Linked DNA regions of Homo sapiens: region 2 is linked to region 1. A link means that fine-mapping ties the variant in region 1 to the expression of a gene that starts in the linked region. Tissue or cell type: fibroblasts. Region 1 holds a variant in brackets; the other region holds the start of a gene. All regions are shown on one strand. Distances are from middle to middle. Region 1 holds the start of LOC107986422 (a long non-coding RNA gene). Region 2 holds the start of MRPS27 (mitochondrial ribosomal protein S27).

What was found.
Region 2: it holds the start of MRPS27, and the variant in region 1 is fine-mapped to the expression of MRPS27 in fibroblasts (GTEx, PIP above 0.99).

The regions. Positions count from the first base shown.
Region 1 is chr5:72,287,506-72,295,843 of GRCh38, reverse strand. MRPS27 (mitochondrial ribosomal protein S27) reads left to right here. Exons shown (of 11, transcript NM_015084.3): 4 at 255-313. LOC107986422 (a long non-coding RNA gene) reads left to right here and starts at 320. Exons shown (of 2, transcript XR_001742742.2): 1 at 320-4,894. The variant G/C (reference allele first, on the strand shown) is at 4,359.
Region 2 is chr5:72,316,827-72,325,164 of GRCh38, reverse strand. It overlaps MRPS27 (mitochondrial ribosomal protein S27), which reads left to right and starts at 4,925. Exons shown (of 11, transcript NM_015084.3): 1 at 4,925-5,016. The coding sequence starts at 4,944. PTCD2 (pentatricopeptide repeat domain 2) reads right to left here and starts at 4,792. Exons shown (of 10, transcript NM_024754.5): 1 at 4,656-4,792; 2 at 2,901-2,993. The coding sequence starts at 4,782. RefSeq lists enhancers at 4,594-4,803, 4,864-5,193, 4,792-5,332, 5,333-5,874.

The sequences.
Region 1 (8,338 bases):
TTTCAATCCGTTTTCTGATCAAGGTTATTCTACACATAGAAAAAGAGAAGCCATTGTATATTCTTTGTTTGCATTAGCATAAAGGGGTTTCAAGGATGGAGCCATACCACGTGAACATTGTTCCACTAAGCATCACCATCGTTCCAATAAAATGGGTGTCCTGTGTTTTCTAAGGTCAATGTGTGATCTAGGCCCTAGGCCAAATATATGACATAATTTATATTCAACCAAAGGTTTCTTTTTCTGTCTTTTAGCTTATAGACAACATTTCCTCTCGGGAAGAGATAGATCATGCAGAGTATTACCTTTACAAGTAAGTTTTCCATTTGATTTGGCTATGTACTCTGTGATTTCACACCCCTTTTTTACATAAAAGTTGGTATATGTTGTGTATAATTTTGACACCTTCTAAGTTTATATTTTAAAGATCTTTTCATATGAGTATAGAGAGAGTTTCTGATTTTTTATAACTGCATTTTATTCCATACTGTGAGTTTATTATTTAAACCAGTTCCCTTTTTATGGACCTCTAGGTTGTTCTCTTTTTTGTATTGTATACGATGTTATAATTGATAACCTTGTACGTATGTAATTTTTCACCTAATTTTCATGAGTATATATATTTATAGTTTTAATCGCTATTGACAAATTGCTTTCTGTTGAAGTTTTTACATTCCCACTAGCAAGGTATGAGAGACATGTATTTTTACAGCTTGGCCAATAGTTAGGTATTTTCACATGTTTGCATTTTTTTGCCAATCTGATAGGTGAAAATTTATACACACACACACAAACACACACACACACAAGTTGAGTATCTCTTATCTAAGATGCTTGAAACCAGAAGTGTTTCAGATTTTGGATTTTTTTAGATTTTTGAATATTTGCATTATACTTACTGTTTGAGTACCTCTAATTCGAAAATCCACAATGCTTCAATGAGCATTTCCTTTGAACATCATGTTGGTGCTCAAAAAATTGTGGATTTTGGAACTTTTCAAATTAGAGATACTCAATCTGTATGTATATCTCTTCTCTCCTTTTTTTTTTTACAGGTGGAATTTTACCCGATGTGAACTGTTATGTACCTATTTTCAGTTAACACTGTTTTAAAACCTTTTCTACATTACCACATTTACTTCACTCTTTCTCACAGCTGCTAACAATTCCATTGTGAACTACCCACAAAACTCAGCCATGTGTACAAAAAGTATGTTCAGTGCAACATCATTTATGGTAGCAAAAGACTGAAACAACCTAATGCACATTAAATAAAGAACTGGTCAAACAAGTATCTGTCAGAATTGTACCTTACAACTAAATTTTTATTGCGATTTCAGTTTTAAAAATCTGATTTGTGATTTGTTCCAGTTCCTATGTTCCAAAAATAGACTCAGATTGAAATTTTAAATGTTTCCAGTAAGCATTGCATTAGAGTTTCCCATTTGATCTTGCTTGTTTTGATCAAGAGAATTTTTAGTTGTTTCTGTCTAGATGCATTTTTATTTTTTGTTGTTGTTGTTGTTGTTTTGGGGGGTTTTTTGGGGAGTAGTTTTTTTCTAGATGCATTTTTTAAAGCTTACTGTATTTTAGTGAAAATGTATTCGTTTTTCTCTGATTTTGCTAAATAATAATGAGGCTTTTTTTTTAATTTCTGAATTGGGTAGATGCTACCACTTTTTGGGTATTTTCTATTTAAATGTAAACCTCAAGTAGGCTAGATTCCACACCTTTAAAAAACATTTATTTTAAATCTCAGATTGGCTTTAACAATGTCCTAAGTTGAAATTTTAGGTCCTAACTTAGTTGCAAGTCATCTTAGTTGTGAGTGCCCTCTTGTACTTCATTAGGATAAAGATAAACGAACCCCTTGATGAGAGGTGGCCCTGCCTTCCTTTAGTGGCTCTTTGGGACTGTAGGGCTGCTTTGGTAGTTACTTTTTGTCTGTGATGAAGGGTGTATTTGGGCTGGCATCTGGCCAGTTCTCATATTTTTATTTATAGCAAAATGCAGAACATAGTTTCAATTTCTAAATATAAACTGTTTTTTAGAATTTCATCCTGTGAGATACAGTGCCATAGTGTTGGGAGAAGTATGTTCCAAATTCAGAAGTACTTCTGTAGCATCAAATTGATTTCAGTGACTCAGCATTTCAACAAGTATTTACCGAGCACCTATTATGTGCGCAGGCCCTTTCCTGGGTGCTGGATATCTAATGTTGAATAAGTTAGACATTCTCCAAGTATTACTGAAAAGTTGAAATTCTGTTTTTAAGACCTTCTATGATTAATTCTTCACATGATGTTCAGTTTTGTGTGGCCTGGGGTATAACTGAAAGTTTCATAAGATCACTACGTCCTATTTCCATATAGATCAAATAAAAGACTCTTGTCCATCATAAATCTGAGCCACTGTTTAATTGGACATCCCATTTTTTGCTTTAATCAAAACTAGTTCTTTAGCTATGATTTATCGTTTATCTTAGTTCTTTCTCCTCCCTTCCATTACCAAGAAAATTGACTCTCTTTTTATCAGCTTTTTTTTTTTTTAAGACAGAAATGTTTTTATGACTTCATGTGCTTGTATATATATGAGACTAGGTAGAACTCTACAAAGCTGCGTCGGAACAGTGGAGATTGGCTGGGTTCTCTCGTTAGCTAAGTGCCTCACTCTTGCTTTCCACCCTTAGAGAATATACAGAACATACTTATGCCTTAGCAAAATTAAAAATTACAAGTTATAAACTCTTGGGGTTTATCTCAAGTAATCAAAATCAGGGATGTTAATCCTGAAGACACCAAGGACTTACTGCTGTGTAATATTTCTACCAGTTAGGCCTTCAATCATTATGATGCCTAACATCTCCTCATGGGATGACTTTAGACATCTCGGAGCAAACTTACAATTCCAGGTCTAAGGTGAGGAAATGAAAAAGGAACTTCTTAATTTTATACAACTCACAGCTTGCAGGCCTGGGGTTAGGATTTCTCAGTCCTTAAGCAGTACCGTCTTTAACAGACAAGCCCACAGGAGAACTTTGGCATTGGTTCACCTCTTTCTCTGACATAACCTGTGAACACCAGGCTCTGCTAGCAGGAGTGTAGCTGCCACATCTTCTCCTCTTCTAGTGATCAAATTTCCGCAATTATTATGTAAAGTCTAGAGCCAAAGAAGTTTAGAAACCTTGAATGATCAGTGAAGAGCTGATTGAGCTTCTGCCATTGCATCAGGCACACAAGTAAACAGTTCCAAGTTCCAGCAGCTCAGGGTGCTGCTGGTACCTGCCAGCTTATTATCACCCTATCATCCCAGCAGAAGATTTCAAGTTTTGAATCTCTGAAAGTACATAGGCTTAAATGTTTAGGGACTTCAACATTAAAGGGATCTTTTAAGGAGAGATAGAAAGGCTGCTATTCAGACAGCAGGCAGGAGAACAAATTTCTAAGTACTTTTATTTGGGCCGTGGTCTATTCTCTGGGAGCTGGCAATCCTATGATCAACTTTTGCCTTCTATTTATAAATAAAAAATGAAAACACCAAGGAAAGGGTGAAGCTCTAACCAAAGAATAATGTGAACTAAAAATGATTAAGGCAATACCAGCAACTATATTCATTGGCCAAAAAAAAAAAAAAAAAAAAACTGGTAATACCCATATAAAAGGAAAATAAACCAAGAGTAAAAGTGATTAAAATAGCAACAAAGTTAAAACAAAGTAAAATAAACAAAATAAGGAAACAAGGCATACTGTTGGGCTGTGACAAATAAAGAAAACTTAAATAAGATAATAAAAAATAAATACAGTAAAATGAAATAAGGATTTGAGCCAGGGACTTTATACGATATGTATAGTTTAAGCCGGGAGGTTGGGAAAATAGGCATAGGTGTGCTCTTGCACAGATATTACTAGCAGGCTAAATGGTAAACCTCTTTATGAGTGGTTTTCAAGCTGTCTTCTGAGAAGCCCTGGAGCTAGTTTCTTATAGGCCCTCTAGGGCGTGGCTTGGGGGAAGAATAGGTCTGGAGATAGGCCAGACCATGCTGCCACAGGCCATTTGCTTTTGCTTCTGTTTCTGCCAGAGAAACTGTGCCTCCAGCTGCCTTATCGGTGTCTACAGAGAAAATTCAGAGAGGACTGTGAACTTGCATAAGAATAAAATTATATTTTTATTTTCACTAACCTCAATAATATTTAGCATTTCTTTCATTTATGAATGTAGGCAGCAGATGACTATAATATTAACAGCATCTGTGTCTTTCTTGCCAATAAAAATCATTGATTTTTTCATATCACATTACATTTGTTACAGATATCACTGCTTAGAAATTATGTTAGTAATTAAACCTACCGCTAGCTAGT[G/C]TTATTTCATGCATTAATAAAGCAGCACATATGTTACCATATCCCAAAGATTTCTTAATATCTTGATAATTGTATTTCAATATAATTGGTTTCTGTTGTAAGAAACTAATTCTGAGAAGCCTTCATCAGACTGCCAGAGGGTTCAAGACAAAAAATTGTTAGGAACCCTGCTGTGAGATCTTGTTTGAAAAATAGGTTCTTTTGCTTAGACTTATTTTTATTTCTTCCCTTAGGTTTTTTGGGTTTTAAATACTCTGGGTCTTTGTTTTCTCTTCTTACAAAGAAGACTTTCTTAGTTTAGACCTTACCAAGTAAGACAAGCATATAATTGATGGGTTTTCTGTCTTCACAATGAAAATTTAGATACAGCCAGTCTCCCAAGTTTCCCTACAGCACCGGAAAAAAGGTGTGGTGAGGAGTGAGAAGATTTGGACAGGCCCTGAGATGCTACCTGTCAGGAGACCAGCGCTGGCAGGGTGCTAGACAGGAGCATTTCCGCTTTATTTTGATATCACCATCACCCAGTCCTTGGTGAGGTAAGAAGTCATGCTCTTTCCCAGTGGTAGCAGCAAAGGTTCTGTGACGCAGAAAAGAGAGGTAACAGAACAGCTCAGCTAACAGCTGCTGACAGGAAATGTCTGTTCAGTGGGCATAAAAAGACTGCATTTATTTTTTATATTTGTTTAAAAGAATTTTTATATCCCATGTTAATTTTAAAAACAGTTAGGCAAAATACTTTCTTTTTCTGGGCAAAGGATTAATTTCTACTTCCTATCCACACGCCCTCTTGTTAATATTTGGAAGAGAAAAGGGTTCCTACCTTTGCTTTACTATAAACTTAGAGCATTCCTAAGAATTAGATTTGCATCTTTATTTTACTGATGCAGAGACTAAAACATAGAGATTGGCTGAGCACACCCAACATAGAGACTTAAGTATAAGCCACTGCCTGTCCTGAGAGAGAAACCACAAGGATCAGATGTGAGCAGTGGGGCAATGCTATAAAAACAATGCAGTGCTGTCTCAGTGCAAGGTTTATTGTTAAGGATCGCAGATGGGGCTACAATTTCTTTATAGGAAACTAAGGCAGAAGAAATTCCAGAGAGACCAGGCTTAGCTGTTCCTCTATAAGAGATCCCCTTTTAAAAGGGATCTGTCTGCCTGGAGTCAGTTATGGTGAGTGTATGTAGAGTTTTATACAATGGGAACTTTTTCCTTTTTCATCTTGTAGAGAGCATCTTTCCTGGGCCACCTAGTCTGTAGTTCTGAGCTTTCCCCCCATAACCTCCAAGTCCACATGCCCAATGTATACTGCCCAAATGCAGACAAGTGAACCTTGGGGCGGGCTCTATGTCTCTATTTTCAGGAGATAAAACAGCATGTTACTGGTAAAATTGTGCCATTGGCAAAAACCATTATTTTCATGGTTATGACAAGCTTTAACCATTCTTGTGTTAGTATTTGATTACTGCATTGCTAAAATGCAAACTCAAGCCATAAAAATTTCCTCTTTCCACTTAGTGTCCTCATCTTCACTGAGGATATTTGCAAATTGCATTTTTAAAGGCTTACATAGGCCTTCGAATCATGTTGGGACCATGGTAGTTTAGAGATGTATGAAATTAAACTTGCTCCTTCTACTATCCGGGTGTCAATAATCAGAACTGATAATTTGATCTGCAACGTAACAGTCATTCCTGAAGGATAAGTCATAGAAATTTCTAACATATATAACATATACTCCTTATATTAAGGATGTAAATTTTTTTTTAGGCCAGGCACAGCGGCTCATGCCTGTAATCCCAGCACTTGGGGCAGACGGATTGCTTGAGCACAGGGGTTTAATACCAGCCTGGGCAACATAACAAACCTTATCTCTATAAAAAGATACAAAAAATTAGCCGGGTGTGGTGGTGCACACCTGTAGTCCCAACTACCTGGGAGACTGAGGTGGGAAGATCACCTGAGCTTGGGAGGTCGAGGCTGCAGTGAACCGAGGTCATACCACTGTACTCCAGCGTAGGTGACAGAGTGAGACCCCTGTCTCAAAAAAAAAAAAGAATATAGCATTCTTTTAAAGCAGCCTTTTAGTTTTTAGCAAACATGTAGGGAATGCTGAATTGTTATACAATAAGAAAAGACTGTTGCAAAGCTCAGTGGAAGATGAGTTTTTCTCAGAATACAGCTCTCAGTGTTGCTATGGAGAGTGGCATGCCACCCAGTAAGAAAGGAAGTTCAGATTGCGTGGCAAGCTGTGTACTGCCAACACATTCATCCATGCTGTACGTGGGTCTCAAGTATCTTTCACTATTTGCTTAGCCAACCTGGCAGATCCCAGGTATCCCTGGTTGGAGATGGATAGCAGGTCAGGAACAGCTGGGCCAAGGCAGATGGCAGCCTGCATGTCTCCAGGTCCTGGGTTGGCAGCCAGCCTAAAAAGGAAGGACCAAAATAGCTTCATTTTTCATGAAGCAAAAATACCCAATGGTTCCTTGGAAGGCTATAGCACCACCCCAGGCCTATGTTGTAAAAATCCATTTCTGCCTGTAGGAAAAGGGGAAGGTGGGAGTTTATTAAGAGGGATTATTAAGAGGGAACAGCATGCATTCGTTTACGCAGCAGTAATTTTCCTTTGAGGGCGTAGAGACTTTGTGTTTCACAGCAATAAAAGGTAATCTTAAATTTTTCTGTTAGCATATTGCCAGGTCGCATTATGCCTGAACATTATTAAGAAAAGAGTAAGAACCCAAGGGGAGAGAAATGAGTCTGAGAGCATTTTTTAGTAGCACTTCTATACTTTAATATTGCCTAGTTCTTTATTTAGTTCTTATTTGCTGATCCTTACCACAGGCCTGGGAGATTGCTTATTATTGTTAATAGCTCTGTACTGGAAAATAGCAGATCGTTGGTCATAGTGCATGCATTGCCAGAGATCATGGGAGCTTTGTGATAAGGATTAGAATTCTTGGCCTCCATGGCCGGGCGCAGTGGCTCACGCCTGTAATCCCAGCACTTTGGGAGCCGAGGCGGGCAGATCACGAGGTCAGGAGATCGAGACCATCCTTGCTAACACAGTGAAACCCCGTCTTTGCTAAAAATACAAAAACAAAATTAGCTGGGCATGGTGGTGGGCGCCTGTAGACCCAGCTACATGGGAGGCTAAGGCGGGAGAACGGCATGAACCCAGGAGGCGGAGCTTGCAGTGAGCCGAGATCATGCCATTGCACTCCAGCCTGGGCGACAGAGCAAGACTCCATCTCAAAAAAAAAAAAAAAGAATTCTTGCCCTCCACTGCTTCAGACTCTACTTCTCTTCCCACTGGTCTTATTATTTCATCTGGAGCCTCATCATAGGAAGAGTGAACCTTCAAGGTATTTTTTTGGCTTTGGCTTAAGCATTCCACCTAGCTTTCCCAGAATGATCTCATACCTTAGATGGTTATTCCATTTTATTCCTCTGGTGTGCTAACTATGTACCTCTGCAGACTCCAGTCCTGAGTCCCTAGGAGTATGTGCTGCTGCAGACATCCATGCACAAGTCTTTGTATAGATGCGTGCTTTCATTTCTGTGGGATAAATAGCTAGGGGTAGAATGATTGGAGCATATGGTAAGTAAATGTTTAACTTTTTAAGAAACTACCAAATTGTTTTCTGAAGTGATTATACCATTTATAGTCCCAACAGCAGTTCCGCTTCCTCCACATTTGTGCCAACACATTTAGCCATACCAACATGTGTTTAGTGGTATCTTATTGTGGCTTTAATTATTTGCCCAATGAGTAATGATATTTCCTTTGGTAAAGTGTTCGAATCTTTTGTCAATTTTTTTTGTTTGTTTGTTTGTTTTTTATTGAGATGGAGTCTCTGTCATGCAGGCTGGAGTGCGGTAGCACGATCTTGGCTCACTGCAGCCTCCACCTCCCAAGTTCAAGCAATTCTCCTGCCTCAGCCTCCCAAGTAGCTGGGATTACAGGCAGTTGC
Region 2 (8,338 bases), 29 kb before region 1:
GATCACTTGAGGTCAGTAGTTTGAAACCAGCCTCGCCACCATGGTGAAACCCCGTCTCTACCAAAAATACAAAAAGTAGCCAGGTGTGGTGGTGCACGCCTGTAATCCCAGCTACTAGGGAGGCTGAGGCACAAGAATTGCTTGAACCTGGGAGGCAGAGGTTGCAATGAGCCGAGATCATGCCACTGTACTCCAGCCTAGGTGACAGAGCAAGACTCTGTCTCAGAAAAAAAAAAAACAACACCTTAAGAATCCAGTATTTCAACAGATATAACTTGTGTTTTAAAACAAATCAATCAACATTTGTTTATCATATAATCATACTCGGAAGTATCCTTCTTTGTGTGTGAGACACCAAGAAGCGTAAGGAATAGTTCCTGCCCTCAAAGAACTTAAAAGCATTTTGGGGAGGGCAAGCTAAATTTATACAAAGCTACCTGAAAACAATGATGGAGGAGGTGACACATGAATACTATAAACATAATAAGACTCTTCTGTCCTGTTACGACACCTATTACAACTCAGAGTGGACAGAAGAGTCCTGTTACAACCTTTACTATTATGACTCAGAACAGACCAGGTTGGTGAAAGTGGAGGGGTACCAGTGAGAAAGGAAAGGGCTGAAATCAGGTTGGAGAAATGGAGGAGGGGGATATTCTAGGTAAGGAAATCAGCATGAGCAACAGAACAGAACTGGGAATGACAGGTGTGGAGGGAAAAGCTGTGACTAGATCAACCAGAAACCGTCCTAGAAAGGGCGGAGTCCATCACGGGAGAGCCAGGATGCCAGAGAGATGAGTATGTTAATAGTGTGGTATACAACAGAGTACCACTGTGGGCTCTCAAAATGATGAAAGGTTGACAGGACTTTAAACATATCAGTCTGACAATAGAGCAGATTGGCACTGATTATATTAATTGCCTTTCAGAACATGTACACAACTGCCACAGACTTATGAAGACTATGACAACTGGAAATCACAACTGGATGACATGAAGCCCTAACTGCAAACCTCACATAGATCTAAAATACCTGGGTAGAAAGAAAAGACTGAAGTGAAATCTAGATTGAGCCTACTCAACTGGGGATAAATATATTCCCCCCATTCCAAAGGTTTATTTTTTTGCCCCCTATATGGTATTATATAACAGTATGATTAGCGGAGCAGCGAGAGAACATTGATTTCTGGAGGACTGAATTGTGAGGGAATGGAGGCAGAAAGTATCAGGATGGGTGCAGTGGCTCACGCTTGTACTTTAGGAGACTGAGGCGGGATACTAGCTTGAGCCTGGGAGTTCGAGACCAGCCTCAACACAGTGAGACCATCTCTACAAAAAAAAATTAAAAATTAAAAATTAGGCGGTATGGTGGCACTGTAGTCCTAGTTACTCAGGAGGCTAAAGCAGGATTGCTTGAATCCAAGAGTTTGAGGCTGCAGCGAGCTATGATGGTGCCAACTGCACTCCAGCCTAGGTGACAGAGCGAGACTGTCTCTTAAAAAACAAACCAAAACAAAGAGAATGTTAATGTGTTAATCAGGAGCTCACAAACATCTGGCAGTGAGAGGAAGGAGAGCTGGGTCTATGGTTGAAAAAGTCAGTAGGGACACCAAGAGTTATTAAAAAAAAAAGGAAAGTCTTAGATGTGTTCATAAAGGAGGATCAAGGAGGTATATCCACAACCCCCAGGGACCACTGCTGCATCCACACACAATAAAAGGTATGAAATGCTGGGAAGAACTCTATGTGCAGGAGGGAGAGAATGAATGCACAAGATTTTTCAGGTGCTGAAAGGGAAAAAGACCTAGGGTGGTGTTCTTGTTTGTAGCTTTTTATAACAAAAATTTTCAAACATACCCAAGAAATGAAAGAACAGGATAATAATCCCCCTCACTAAGTGCCATTACCCAGCCTCAATCATTATCAATATTTTGCTAATTATGTTTCCTCTACACTACAATCCTCAAACACACTGGATTTTTTTTCAAAGCAAATCCCAGATTTATCTTTTTTTTGAGACAGGGTCTCACTCTGTTACACAGGTTGGAGTGCAGTGGTGTGATCATGGCTTACTGCACCTTAGACCTCCCAGGCTCAAGCAATCCTCCCACCTCAGTCCCTGGAGTAGCTGTGACTACAGGCATGCACCACCACGCCCAACTAACTTTAAAAAAATTTGTAGAGATGAGGTCTACGCTGCTCAGGCTGATCTCAAACTCCCTGGCTCAAGCAATCCTCCTGCCTTGGCCTCCCAAAGTGCTGGAGTTACAGGCATGAGCCATCATGCCCAGCCAAATCCTAGGTTTGGTAGTCAGGTTTCTCTTGTTTTTTAAGAAATTTTTGATCCTACTGACTTTTCTAGCACAGAGTGAAAAATACCAAATGTATCATCACACATAGTACTGTTTTGTTTCATTTGATTTCATTTATATATAGATATGTTTGTGTGTACTGAGATGCAACATAAAATGCATTTTTCACTGAAGGTTACATCAAAAAGTTTGAAAGCCAATCATCTGAAGTTTTTAAACTTTATTGTGCATATGAATGATCTGGGGCCTTTCTCTCTGCACTTCTATCAACCACCCAATAGATGCTGATGCCGCTGGTCCTCAAACCTCACTTTTAATGGCACAGATTTAGACAAGACCAATCGCAGCACTAGCTTTAATACTTCTCTGGGATCGTAAGAGAAGGAATAAGAGGAGAGCTGTAGACGTTGTAGCAGCAAAGTATGAAATGCAAGATAAATATAAGAGTTCACTATGAAACTAACAATAAATGGTCTCAACTTTTTCTAAGGCATAATAAAGTCACTGAAGGAGACACTGAATAGGGATAAAGACAGAGAAACTTAAATGACAGATAAATGACAGAATTAACAAAATAGATTCTATTACCTTTAGTGCCAGAAAGATTACATGCAACAGCCACTTTCTTTTGTTGAAATTCTTTTAATTTCACCACATTATCTGTAAGTAGGTATCTTTTAGCTAAAAATCAGAGAAAGAAAAAAGTAAAGTCATTTTGACTGTTTTAGAAGTTAGCAAATAACATGAATAGAGCTGGATTACCTCTAACATCTATTATAGATAATCCATTAGACAGGTACAAATATAACTGTACAAACTGTACAAATATAAATCCTGGGAAAAACAATTTCTGAACTACCAGAGAATGCAAATCCTCAGCAAAACAGGTTTTATTTGTGTGTGTGAAAGAAGCTAGTGATTAACCGTAGCTAGTGATAAACCTGTGTGGGGACTGGTTGACAGGAAGTTGGGATTTGAAGTACAAATGGGCATTTGCCATCGGTTAAGGGTATCAAGGGCATTTAAAAAAAAAACTAATAACATTTAAATGCAAAACAGGCATATTTAGTTTTGGTTTATCCAGGGAGAAGCACAGTGTAGTGGAAAAAGCTGCAGCATGACCACTGGAACTCCCAGTTTTGTCCTCTGTGAAATGAGGGGGTTAAGGCCTCTCAGATGTGGACTCAAAATACATTTGAGATACATGGAAATCATTGATCACAGCTTAGTAGATTTGGGAAACATCATCCTTTCTTTAGGATCCTTGGCTGTGCATGAGATAAAACGGACCAAGCGTGGCCGAAGAATCACGCACTAACAGAGTTCTGTGAGCTGCAGTAACAAGGTAACAATAAAAGTTGCTATTTATTTACAGAAAGGCAGTCCAGTGAAGTGGTTAGGAGCAGGTTTCTATTGTTGGGTGTGTTCAAATCCCACCTCTAACAGTTCCCTCTGACTTTGGGCAAATTACTTAACCTTGTTCCTCCTCTGTAAATGGAGAAAAGAATGGTACTTCTCTTGCTGGGTGTTGTCTAGAGAAAAGGAATTAATGTATGTAAACTACATTAAAGTAATGCCTGACAAACATTTTTACTATCACTCACTAGCATCTTCAGATTTAACTCTCTTCATAGAGATGTTAGAGGATAGTTTTGAAAAATGAAGAAACGTGCCGTTAAGTCTTTTAGATTGTTAGCAGAACTGAGACTCCATAAGACCTCTGCTTCCAAACTCTGCAGAAAAGAAAAAGGCCGGGCGCGGTGGCTCACTCCTATAATCCCAGCACTTTGGGAGGCCGAGGCGGGTGGACCACGAGGTCAGGAGTTCGAAACCAGCCTGGCCAACATAGTGAAACCCGTCTCTACTAAAAATACAAAAAATTACCCGGGCGTGGTGGCGCACGCCTGTAGTCCCAACTACTCGGAAAGCTGAGGCAGGAGAATCGCTTGAACCCGGGAGGCGGAGGCTGCAGTGAGCCGAGATCGCGCCACCGCACTCCAGCTTGGGCGACAGAGCAAGACTTCGTCTCAAAAATAAATAAATAAATAAATAAAAGTCACCCAAGGCGGGAGGGATGTTCCTGAAGACGAACGTCGCCCCATCTGAGGGAGCACTACAGCCCCAAGGTCAATACCCCAGCAGTCCTTCGATTTGCAGGCACTGGGGGTATCCACGACCCCCAGTGGTCACCACTGCACCCACGTGCAACTAGAGGGCGAGGGTGCGCTCCAGGCCAGTGAGTGACTTAGGAGCTGTGGCTGCTCCACAGAGATGCTAGCTGGGATCTAACACTCCCTTCTCTCCCATCCCTCCCCTCCTTCCCTAGGCTAAAGCCGCGGATACCTCCGAGAGGGCAGCGGCAGCTGACAGAGCCGGAGCCTCCCACCCCAGGATACACCAAAATCTGCAGCGCCTGCAGGAGAACTCGATTCGAGGGCCGAAATGCAGCAGCCATACTGTCTCGGACCATACCAACTACTGGAACCGGGGCGAGGAGGCGGAGCGTCGGTCCTGTCGTCGAGAGCGACAAAAGGGATTCGTCCAATTCTGGGCGCCCCGAGAGGTCGAGCTGTAACCCCGCCCCTTCCTCTGTCCGTAACCCGTTGGCTGTTCCTTTTGGTACGCTCCAAGATGGCTGCCTCCATAGTGCGGCGCGGGATGCTCCTGGCGCGGCAAGTGGTTCTTCCTCAGCTCTCTCCTGCAGGTTGGCCGGACAGCTTCATTAGGCCCCTGATTATTCTGTTTTTTGGGTGAAGGGAGCGGTGGGCTTTCAAGAGGAGAGGAAACGTTTCTGGAATCTGATTGCTAGGGACGCCATTTGGGGTGTTTGGTAGTGCAGAAGAAGGAGACAAGGTATCTGATCCATTTCCTTCCCTAAAATAACAGTATGTTCCTGTCCAAAGGTACGAAGAGCAGTGGAAGGTTATATAGCATGAGGGAATTTGCGTATGATTCGCCAGATTTATGTGTTGGGGTGGTCGTGCTTTTGCTGACCACGAAAAACCCAAATGTGCGCCGGGCGCGGTGGCCCACGCCTGTGGTCCCAGCACTTTGGGAACGCGAGGCGGGCGGATCGCCAGGAGTTCGAGACCAGCCTGGCCAACAGGGCGAAACCCCATCTCTACTAAAAAATACAAAGAAATTATCTGGGCCTGGTGGCGCGCGCCTGTAATCCCAGCTACTCGGGGGGCTGAGGCAGGATAATCGCTTGAACTCGGGAGGCGGAGGTTGCAGTGAGCAGAGATCGCGCCACTACACTCCAGCCTGGGCAACAGAGCGAGACCCTGTCTCAAAAAAAAAAAAAAAAAAAAAAAAGGAAAAACCTAAATGTGTCCATTCCTGGGGCTGGGACATTTTTCTCCCATCTGAGGTTTCTTTAGAGGGACGTCAGATAAACATTTTTCCCACCACCACACATTTAGCTGGACCCCTGGTCTTCGTGGAAGAATTTTTCAGTATTAATCTCATTTTATCTGATGACCTAGAGCACAACTTTTGATTGACCTTTCTTTGCTATAGTTTTCCACGTGTAGATAATAAATGCTATTAGTTACTTGTAAAATACTTTGATATCTGAACTAAATGGCAGCCCACTCAAAGCCTGCATAGTGGATCTGATAATGAAAACATTGGAAAAAAGTTTTAAAGTATTTATAGAAGCCAAATTTGCAGTGATTCTAACCACATAATCCAGACAGACATATTTGATAAAAATGCAATAATCACACTCGATTTTTCCATTGCCGCTTATCTTCCCTTTCCAACCTACCTCCCATCCTCTATTTTTTTAAAAAGCACGCACTTCTTTAGGAACAGCCATTAAACGTCAATGTGAAACCTCAGAGTTGGCCACCAGTTTTCTGAAGATTAAGTGGCTGACCTGGTGAAAACGTTTAATGTCACACATTAGGCAGTGTTATGCACAACGCTTGACACCTTAGTAAGAATTAGCTGTTGTAGCTATTTTCTGTTTATGTGGTTTCCGTGAACAACTACACACAGAGGGCATTTTGGGAGACCTGTCTTTCCCCACAATCACCTCCCCAGCCTTTTTTTTTTTTTTCGGGTTTCGTTCTTGTTGCCCAGGTTAGAGTGCAATGGCACGATCTCGGCTTACTGCAGCCTCTGCCTCCCGGGTTCAAGTGATTCTCCTGCCTCAGCCTCCCGAGTAGCTGAGATTACAGGCATGCGCCACCACTCCCGGCTAATTTTGTATTTTCAGTAGAGACGGGGTTTCTCCATGTTGGTCAGGCTGGTCTCTAACTCCTGACCTCAGGTGATCCACCCGCCTCTACTTCCCAAGGTGCTGGGATTACGGGCGTGAGCCACTGTGCCCAGCTGGCCCAGCTTTTTAATCTCCCAGTTCAGAACTCTTGAGCAATGATCTAGATATTGTCCTGACTCCAGAATGTAGAAAGGTGATTACTTATGCTAGAATGAAGCATATGCTAGAATGAAGGCATAGAGAATAACAGATAATAAATAGAGAGTAAGCAAGTAGCTGGTATGCGGGAGTACAGTTGGCTTCCTTATCCGAGCATTCTGCATCTGCAGAGTCAACCAACAGCGGATCAAAATACTACAAAACAAAACAAAAACTAACAATAAAAAATAATACAACAGTAAAATAATACAAAGAAAATACAACATGACAACCACTTACATTGCGTTTACATTGTGTTAGGTATTATAAGTAATCTACAAATGACTTAAAGCAGCTTGTCCAACCCTCAGCCCAGGACAGTTTTGAATGTGGCCCAACACAAATTTGTAAACTTAACTAAAATATTAGGAGATTTTTAGCATTTTTTGTTTTGTTTGTTTGCCCATCAGCTATCATTAGTGTTAGTGTAGTTTATGTATGTGTGGCCCAAGACAATTGTTCTTCTTCCAATGTGACCAGGGAAGCCAAAAAAATGGACACCCCAGCTTAAAGTAATGCAGGAGGATGTTTGTGGGTTATTTGCAAATACTGTGCAATTTTATGTAAGAGACTTCTGCATTCTCAGATTTTGGTATTTGAGGGGGTATTCTAGAACCATCCCCCTGGGGCAGGAGAATTGCTTGAACCCTGGAGGCAAAGGTTGCAGTGAGCCAAGATCATGCCACTACACTCCAGCCTGGGCAACAGAGAGATACTCCATCTCAAAAAAATAATAATAATAAATAAAATTAGGCCGGGTGTGGTGGCTCACACCTGTAATCCCAGCACTTTGGGAGGCTGAGGTGGGTGGATCACCTGAGGTCAGGAGTTTGAGACCAGCCTGGCCAACATGGAGAAACCCTGTCTCTATTAAAAATACAAAATTAGGCGTGGTGGCGCATGCCTGAAATCCCAGCTACTCAGGAGGCTGAGGCAGGAGAATCGCTTGAACCTGGAAGGCCTCCGCCTTCCGGTTGCAGTGAGCTGAGATCATGCCATTGCACTCCAGCCTGGGCAACAAGAGCGAAACTCCATTTCCAAAACGAAAAAATAAATGGAAATTAATTTAAATAATTATAGTCTTTTCTTAGTTCTCCTTTTGAAAGCGTCTTTGGAAACCTTATTGTTGCCTCATTATTTAATTTGTAGAACTCAAATTTAGATATATTATTCTAGTAAAGATCTGTGTTCACAGTAAGAGAATGAACTGTGTATAAATTCACACAGATGTGTTTGTATTTGTTTATTTGTTTGAGCTGGAAAGTAGGTAGAGAATAAAAACAGCATTCCAATACTGTGTTTAATCAGCCCCCATGCTATCTAGTTGTGTTGGGCTTTTGGTCTGCTGTGACCTCAGCATAATTATCTGTCATTTTTTCTGTTTGTTTTTTTTTTTTTTTGAGACGGAGTTTCGCTCTTATTGCCCAGGTTGGAATGCAATGGCGTGATCTCGGCTCACCACAACCTCCACCTCCTGGCTTCAAGGGATTCTCTTGCCTCAGCCTCCCAAGTACCTGGGATTACAGGCATGCACCACCACGCCTGGCTAATTTTGTATTTTTAGTAGAGGCAAGGTTTCTCCATGTTGGTCAGGCTCGCCTCG